Homo sapiens: one gene and its partner. The protein of the gene in region 2 purifies or fractionates together with the protein of the main gene of each other region. This does not show direct contact. Each region holds a gene or a part of one and is shown on either strand. Other genes may lie near its edges.

Region 1 (2,506 bases), on a different chromosome or scaffold from region 2:
CGGGGCCTAGAATTCCATTTGGCATGGAGTGAGTGCTCTCTGTATATACTACTTGTGCCATGAAACAATTCTGAGTTCCCCAGGGAGAGCCATCTGCTCCTCTGGAGGCTACCACCTGTCTTCCATCTGAGCTTTTGTCTTCCCGGGTGCCTGAGTCAGCATCTCTGTTATCTGGCCCCTTCTGACCTCCCCTGCCTGCCGAGGGAGGAATGAGTCCATACTGCTCATCACAGCATCCCCAGGGCTCAGCACATAAGTGGGAGCACCGGTCCCTGCTGTCCCAGAGCTACTGTGGCTCCATGCCTGGTGCTCATGGGAAACCACACCTGCACAGGCCCTGGCCTCTTGTGGCCATTGCCTTCAGGACTTCTCCTCTTTCATGCCCCTCTGCATCTGACCCAAGACCCACCTATTTGCCCATCCCCCATCCCCCACCGCTGCCCTTGCCTCATCTCCTGACTCTGGGTGGTCCCCAAAGCCCAGCCCCTTGCTCTGGTCCAAGAGTCAAGGCAGGCCAAGTGCAAAGAAGAGGCTGGGCCAAGGGACACGAGTTGTACTGACTTTATTCCCCTTCATCCTCTCACTCGCATGCCTGCTGTGCCCCATGCTCTGGGGCTGTGGGGTGCCTGTACACGAGCAGTTGTCAATGGTCTCAACACACACCTGGGCATGGCCATTCTGCCACTACCAAGCCCTCTGTGAAGGGCACCGTGGAGACTATGGCAGCATGAGCCAGGGTTGAAGGCTCCCAGAACTGTGGCCACAGGGCTTGAGTTCATCACTCTAGCCACCCATCGCCAGCTGGCCTGAGACCAGAGAGCCCCAAGGAGCCGGGGAGGGGGCAGACCCAGACTCCAGGCCTGAGTTCTAGCCAAACAGGCTGAGAAGTCCAGATGGACGGTGGGACCCCCACAGATCTCCTTGGGAGGGGATGATCCTGCGTCCCCCTTCCCCCAGCCCTGGAAAGTGAGTATGGTGCCCTAGTCGCCTCATTCTGACATCTGGGGGCACATTGTTTTTTTGTGTTGTTTTGTTTTAAATAAAAAGATGTAAAAGCTAGTAAAACAGGAACCCCTATCCATACTGGAACTGCTGAGGTGCCATTATTGCTTCTGGCCTTGTGGTCTGGCCGGAAAGGAGCCCCCACCAACAATGGCCCAAGTGAAGAGAGTGCTTAGCACCAGGGACACAGGCTCCTATCCCCAGTGGGGCAGGGGCCTCCCAGGAGAGGGGTTGGTTGTGCCCACCTAGAGCTCCCGTGACCGTCTTGACCAGCTGTCAAGCTGTCTGGTCAGCTGTCTGGACCCCTCACCTGATCCCAGAGGGGAAGTGTACAAGAACATGAAACCCATGTCCCAGGACAGGGTTTCATTGCCAGCTCCCCACCAGTGTCTCTGACCTCTGCTTGTCAGTATGGCCTGACAGGTCTCAGCCTGGCCACGGCCACTCAGGCCTACTCAGGCTGTAGTGGGGCCAGCAGGTGATGACACCACCAGTGCCTGTGGGAGATCCTGGTGCCAGTGATGGGGGTTGGAAACCCATGGAGGACCCTGCCTACAGCCCACTGGGAGAGATCAACTTTTTTTGGGAAAATGTGAGCCAGCTCCAAAGAGCTGCCAGGCACTGGGACTAGAGATTAAAAATAGCAACAGGGAGGGGGGGACCCTGAGGACATCACGGAAGCCCAAAGATCAAGGAGTGCAAGGAAGAAAAAGAGCTACAGTAAAGCAGGAGCCTGGAGTCCCCAGCCTTGGGGTGGGGGTCCTGACCAGAAGCCTTCTTCCTCGGGGAGGGGCGAACCTTCTCTCCCCCAGGACAGCAGGAGCGCCTGAGCGTACGTCTACAGCTCCAACATCAATTGGGCAAGGAAGCTGCTGGCACTGTACCCTCCAAGCCCAGAGAACAACCAGGGTGGTGTGGCTTGGATTATAAATCCTCAGATCACTCGGGCACCTTGGGCCTGCCCAAATCTGTACAGAATAAAGTGCTTCGTTTATTGATGATTAAAATGTCCCCAGCTCCCTGCCCCAGTGCCATGGGCCTCATAAGGTCAGAGGGGTTCAGTCCCCCTAACCATTCCCCCGGGGCCCAAGCCTCTTCCCACTCCAGCCATGCTGGGAAGGCAATAGTGTCGGGGAGTGGTGGGGGTTTAAGGTGCAAAGAGTATAACAAACAAAACTGTATAAACACAATAGGAAAGAGCTTAACTAGGAAACATGTAGCTTATGGAACCTTCCTCCCCATATTAAAGGCAGGAATAAAGACATTAAATGACAACAAAAAAGGGTTTCCTATTAGTGCTAGCCTCATGGGGGCAAGCAATTGGGTCTAGGCTGCGCCTCCCCAGTCCCCCCAATCCCCCGAGGGGCCTGAACATGCAGGCTCCTTTACCGGCAGTGCTATGGGCGCCCCACCCACCGGTGCACAGGCCCAGGAGGGACGAGGACGCTGGAGCCAGCCAGGGACAGGTTGTGGCAGGACCTAGAGGGAGGATAAGGCCTAGAGC
Region 2 (4,545 bases):
AATTTTTGTAGTTTTAGTAGAGACAGGGTTTCGCCATGTTAGCCAGGCTGGTCTTGAACTCCTGACCTCAGGTGATCTGCCCGCCTCGGCCTCCCAAAGTGCTGGGCGGAATAATTCTTTAAATGGAGTTTTGCTCTTATTGCCCAGGCTGGAGTGCAATGCAGTGATCTCAGCTCACCACAACCTCCATCTCCCAGATTCAAGCTATTCTCCTGCTTCAGCCTCCCGAGTGGCTGGGGTTACAGGCATGCACCACCACTCCTGGCTAATTTTGTATTTTTAGTAAAGATGGGGTTTTGGTTTCTCCACATTGGTCAGGCTGGTCTCGAACTCCCCACCTCAGATGATCTGCCTGCCTCGGCCCCCCAAAGTGCTGGGATTATAGGCGTGAGCCACCGTGCCCAGCCGAATAATTTTTAATAAATACATAGAAAAGGTTTGTCGAAAACAAAACCAGAGATGAAGAAAATAGTGAAATATTTCAAACCATGTTGCATACCAACTGTGTGAATTTTGTATTTAAAATTGTTTAGGCCAAGCATAATGGCTCATGCCTATAATCCTAACACTTTGGGAACCCAGGAGGATCGCCTGAGGCCAGAAGTTCCAGACCAACCTGGGCCACATAGTGAGACCGCATCTCTACAAAAAAAAAATTTTAATTAGCTGGACATGGTGGTGTGTGCCTATGGTCCCAGCTACTCAGGAAGCTAAGGTGGGAGGATCAAGTTAGCCCAAGATTCAGAGGTTGTCGTGAGCTATGCACCACTGCATTCCAGCCTAGTCAACAGAGAGAGACCCTGTCTCTAAAGACTACAAATAAAAAATTGTTATTGAAAACAGAATTACCATTCCACCCAGTAATCCCATTACTGGGTATCTGCCGAAAGGAAAAGAAATCATTATACTAAAAAAGACACTCACATTCTGTTTTTTTTTCTCTCTCTGAGACAGGGTCTAACTCTGTCACTTGGGCTGCAGTGCGGTGGCGCAATCTCAGCTCACTGCAACCTCCACCTCTGATCTCAGCTCACTGCAACTTCCACCTCCCGGGTTCAAGTGATTCTCCTGCCTCAGCCTCCTAAGTAGCTGAGATTACAGGTGTGCACCACCACGCCCAGTTAATTTTTTGCCTTTTTAGTGAAGACAGGGTCTCGCTATATTGGCCAGGCTGATCAACTCCCAGCCTCAATTGATCCACCTGCCTCAGCCTCCCAAAGTGCTAGGATTACAGGCATGAGCCACCACGCCTGGCCTCTTTTTTCAATTTCTTTTTTTGAGACGGGGTTGGGGGGGGTCTCACTCTGTCACCCATGCTGGAGTACAGTGGCATGATCTCAGTTCACTGCAACCTCTGCCTCCTGGGACCAAGCAATCCTCCCACCTACAGGCACACCACACCCGGCTAATTTTTGTATTTTTTGTAGAGACACGAGGGTTTTACCACATTGCCCAGGCTGGCTGCAAACCCCTTTTAAATGCACGTTAGTGTGAATAATTAAAAAACTGCTGAGTTCAAAATATGATCATATGTCATCTTTTTATTTGCTATTAGTAGATAAAGACAGTTTAACTTAGCCTTAGTTCAAAAGTACCTTCTGGAGAAACTAAGTTACTTAGGTTTTGTTTTGAAGCAGTTTGAAAATCACATTAGAAATAAATACAGTAATCCACCTGGACAACATGTCGGTATCCCATCTCCACAAAAAATACAAAAATTAATCGGGTGGTGGTGCACGCCTGAGGTCCCAGCTACTCGGAGGCCGAGGCGGGAGGATGGTTTGGGCCTGGGAGGTGGAGGCTGCAGAGAGCGATGATTGCGCTACTGCACTCCAGCCTGGATAAGAGGGAGACCCCGTCTAAAAAAAAAAAAAAGAAGAAAGACAAAGAAATAAAAACAGTAAGCGATTCCCACATAAACGCACTGCTTTGAGGCACTGAAAAATAATCAGCATATTTCTTCAGTTTTGCTAAAGCCTAAGCAATGTTATTGCGCACTTGGGGAATAGAAAGAGTTTAGGGGTGTGCAAAAATCTCGGGAAAATAAAACTTTTTCGAAGGGAACCAACGGGTTCCATCCCCTAAATACTGCACGAGGCTGCCCAAAGATCCCCGTGTGATATTTTTTAATTATGGAAGATAATTACATTCCTCAGAGCTAACCGAGATTCCACCACACAGGATTGTGTAGAAACTCCTGCTTTATTTATGCACAAGCTCGATCACATGATGCAGGAGCTCTCCACTGGTGGGGGTTGGGGGCTCTGGGATACACTGCGAGGGTCCCACTCCCGGCTCTGTACGGCCTATGGTGTGTCCGTGCACAATGACGGCCTGGGCCTCCATTTGCTCCTCCGTGAAGTGGGCGTCAGACGTTTCCCACGGCCCCTCGGTCCTTGGTGAGAGCTAAAAGGAGACAATGTGTGTACAACGCGCAGCACCCGGCCCAGCAGTCTCCAGCTGCCCGGTCCCACGATGGGGGCCGCCCGGGCGGGCAGTCACCCGTGGCTCCGAGGCAGCCGCCCGCCCCCGGCTCGGGGGAACCGGACCCTGCCTCCTCCCCGCCGCGCCGCGCCGCGCCGCCAGCCGGCTGCTCCCGCCCGGCCCGGCCCCGCCCGCGCAGCGCCCCTCGCAGCTGCCCAGCCTGGGAGCGCTCGACGTCCCGGCTCCGCCGGGCAACCCGGGGCGTGCAGGGGGAGCTCCACCCCGGAATCTTGGAGGTCCCCGGGCTCCCTCGGGCCGGGCAGGCCCCACAGGCGGCCGCGGGCGGGCGGGCGAGGGCGGCGGGCCGGGTCCCCTGCACCAAGGAGGCCGGGCTCCGCAGTCCCCAGTCCAGGCCCAACAGGGAGGGGGCCGCGCCCTCCTCATGCGGTCGGCGCCGGGGGCCGCGGGAGCCCGGGCTGCCCCGGGCCGAGGTGGAGCAGAGGCAGAACCAGGGTGCGGGCTTCCAGGCAGGGCGCCTACGTCCTCACCGATCAGCCCGACTCCAAGCATCAGCTGAGTGTCCGCCACCTCGGCCGCAGCCATCTTCCGCCGCCGCGGCGCGCAGCTCTGGCTGCCGCCTGCAGGACCGGCCTCGCACCCGAACCCCGCCCCGCCCGCCGTAGGGCCCGCCCCCATCACAGGCCCCGCCTCCCTCCCCGGCCCATCATAAGCCCCGCCTCCCTCCCCGGACCATCACAGGCCCCGCCTCCCGCTGTAGGACCCGCCTCCCTCCCGCCCCGCCCCATCACAGGACCATCAACCCCCCCCGTCGGCCCCGCCCCACCCGCAGGCCCACCTATTCCAGCCCCAGTCCTCCCTGCCAGGACCTGCTCAGTGCAGCTCCACTCGTCTTCTGCCCGTGGCCCTTCGCCCTTGGAAACCTCCTTGAGTCTCCGCAGCCTGCCTCAATTTCTCTAATCCAGCTGTTCATCCTTCTTCTTCTCAATCCACTCCAATCTTTCTTCCCGTCGTAGGCTTTCCTTGTTCTACCTCTGCCCTCTGGTCAAGCTCAAAAGAACAGGTCACCTTGTTCCTAAAAAGAGGCGTCCTGAGGATGGAGGAAGGGTCTCCATCCATTCCTTCATCCAGCCACCCCCAAAACAAAACAAAACAAAAATTGAGGGCCTAATAAGGCACTGGGGATACCTTATAGGGCTGAACAAGACAGAGCAGTCCACTGGGGAAGACAGACAATTGGCGAGTAGAATAAATAATCCAGGCCAGGTGAGGTGGCTCACGCCTCTGATCCCAACACGATGGGAGGCCAAGGCAGGAGCATCACTTGAGGTCAGGAGTTCGAGATCAGCCTTGGCAACATAGTGAGACCCATCTCTACAAAAAAAATTTAAAAATTAGCCAGGCATAGTGGCATGCACCTGTAGTCCCAGCTACTCTCAGGCTGAGGCAGGAAAATCATTTGAGCCCAGGATTTTGAGGCTGCAGTGAGCTGTGATCCTGCCACTCACTCCAGCCTGGGTGACAGAGTGAGACCCTGTCTCAAAAATAAATAAATAGATAAATAGATGACAGATAGATAGATAATAGTAAAAAAGCTCAGAATGATATGTGCCCTGGAGGCAACGATATGTGCCCTGGAGGCAGTGTGTTAGAGAGTGGAGGTGTGCTGCTCTAAAATGGGTGTCAAGAAAGGCTTCTCTGAGAAAGGGATATTTGAACTGAGATCTGAATGATAGTAACGACTCAGACATTGGAAGATTTGGCTCCAAGATTCCTCCTCTGGATCTACTGTCTGCCCCAACCCCAAGTCACACAGAGCTAATTAGGGAGGGTCCTTGGTGTCTGCAGGAATACAATCCCACCCTCATCTTTTTTTCTTTTTTCTTTTTTTTTTTTTTTTTTTGAGATGGAGTCTTGTTCAGTTGCCCGGCCTGGAGTGCAATAGCGCGATCTCGGCTCACTGCAACCTCCGCCTCTCGGTTTTAAGGGATTCTCCTGCCTCAGCCTCCTGCGTAGCTGGGATTACAGGCGTGAGCCACTGCGCCTGTTTTTTTCTTTTTTCTTTCTTTTTTTTTTGGAGACAGTTTCTCGCTATGTTGCCCA

The links.
Region 1: the proteins of DENND10 (region 2) and ZBTB47 purify together in Homo sapiens (affinity purification with mass spectrometry; one large-scale study listed by BioGRID and IntAct). This does not show direct contact.

Annotation. Positions count from the first base shown.
Region 1 is NC_000003.12:42,665,620-42,668,125, reverse strand, and holds the end of ZBTB47 (zinc finger and BTB domain-containing protein 47), read right to left. Parts: 3' UTR 546-2,506; downstream 1-545. UniProt on the Homo sapiens protein: May be involved in transcriptional regulation.
Region 2 is NC_000010.11:119,102,625-119,107,169, reverse strand, and holds the start of DENND10 (DENN domain-containing protein 10), read right to left. Parts: upstream 3,058-4,545; 5' UTR 3,028-3,057; coding exon 2,973-3,027; intron 2,406-2,972; exon of another isoform or gene 2,148-2,405; intron 1,860-2,147; exon of another isoform or gene 1,686-1,859; coding exon of another isoform or gene 1,675-1,685; intron 1-1,674. UniProt on the Homo sapiens protein: Guanine nucleotide exchange factor (GEF) regulating homeostasis of late endocytic pathway, including endosomal positioning, maturation and secretion, possibly through activating Rab proteins such as RAB27A and RAB27B.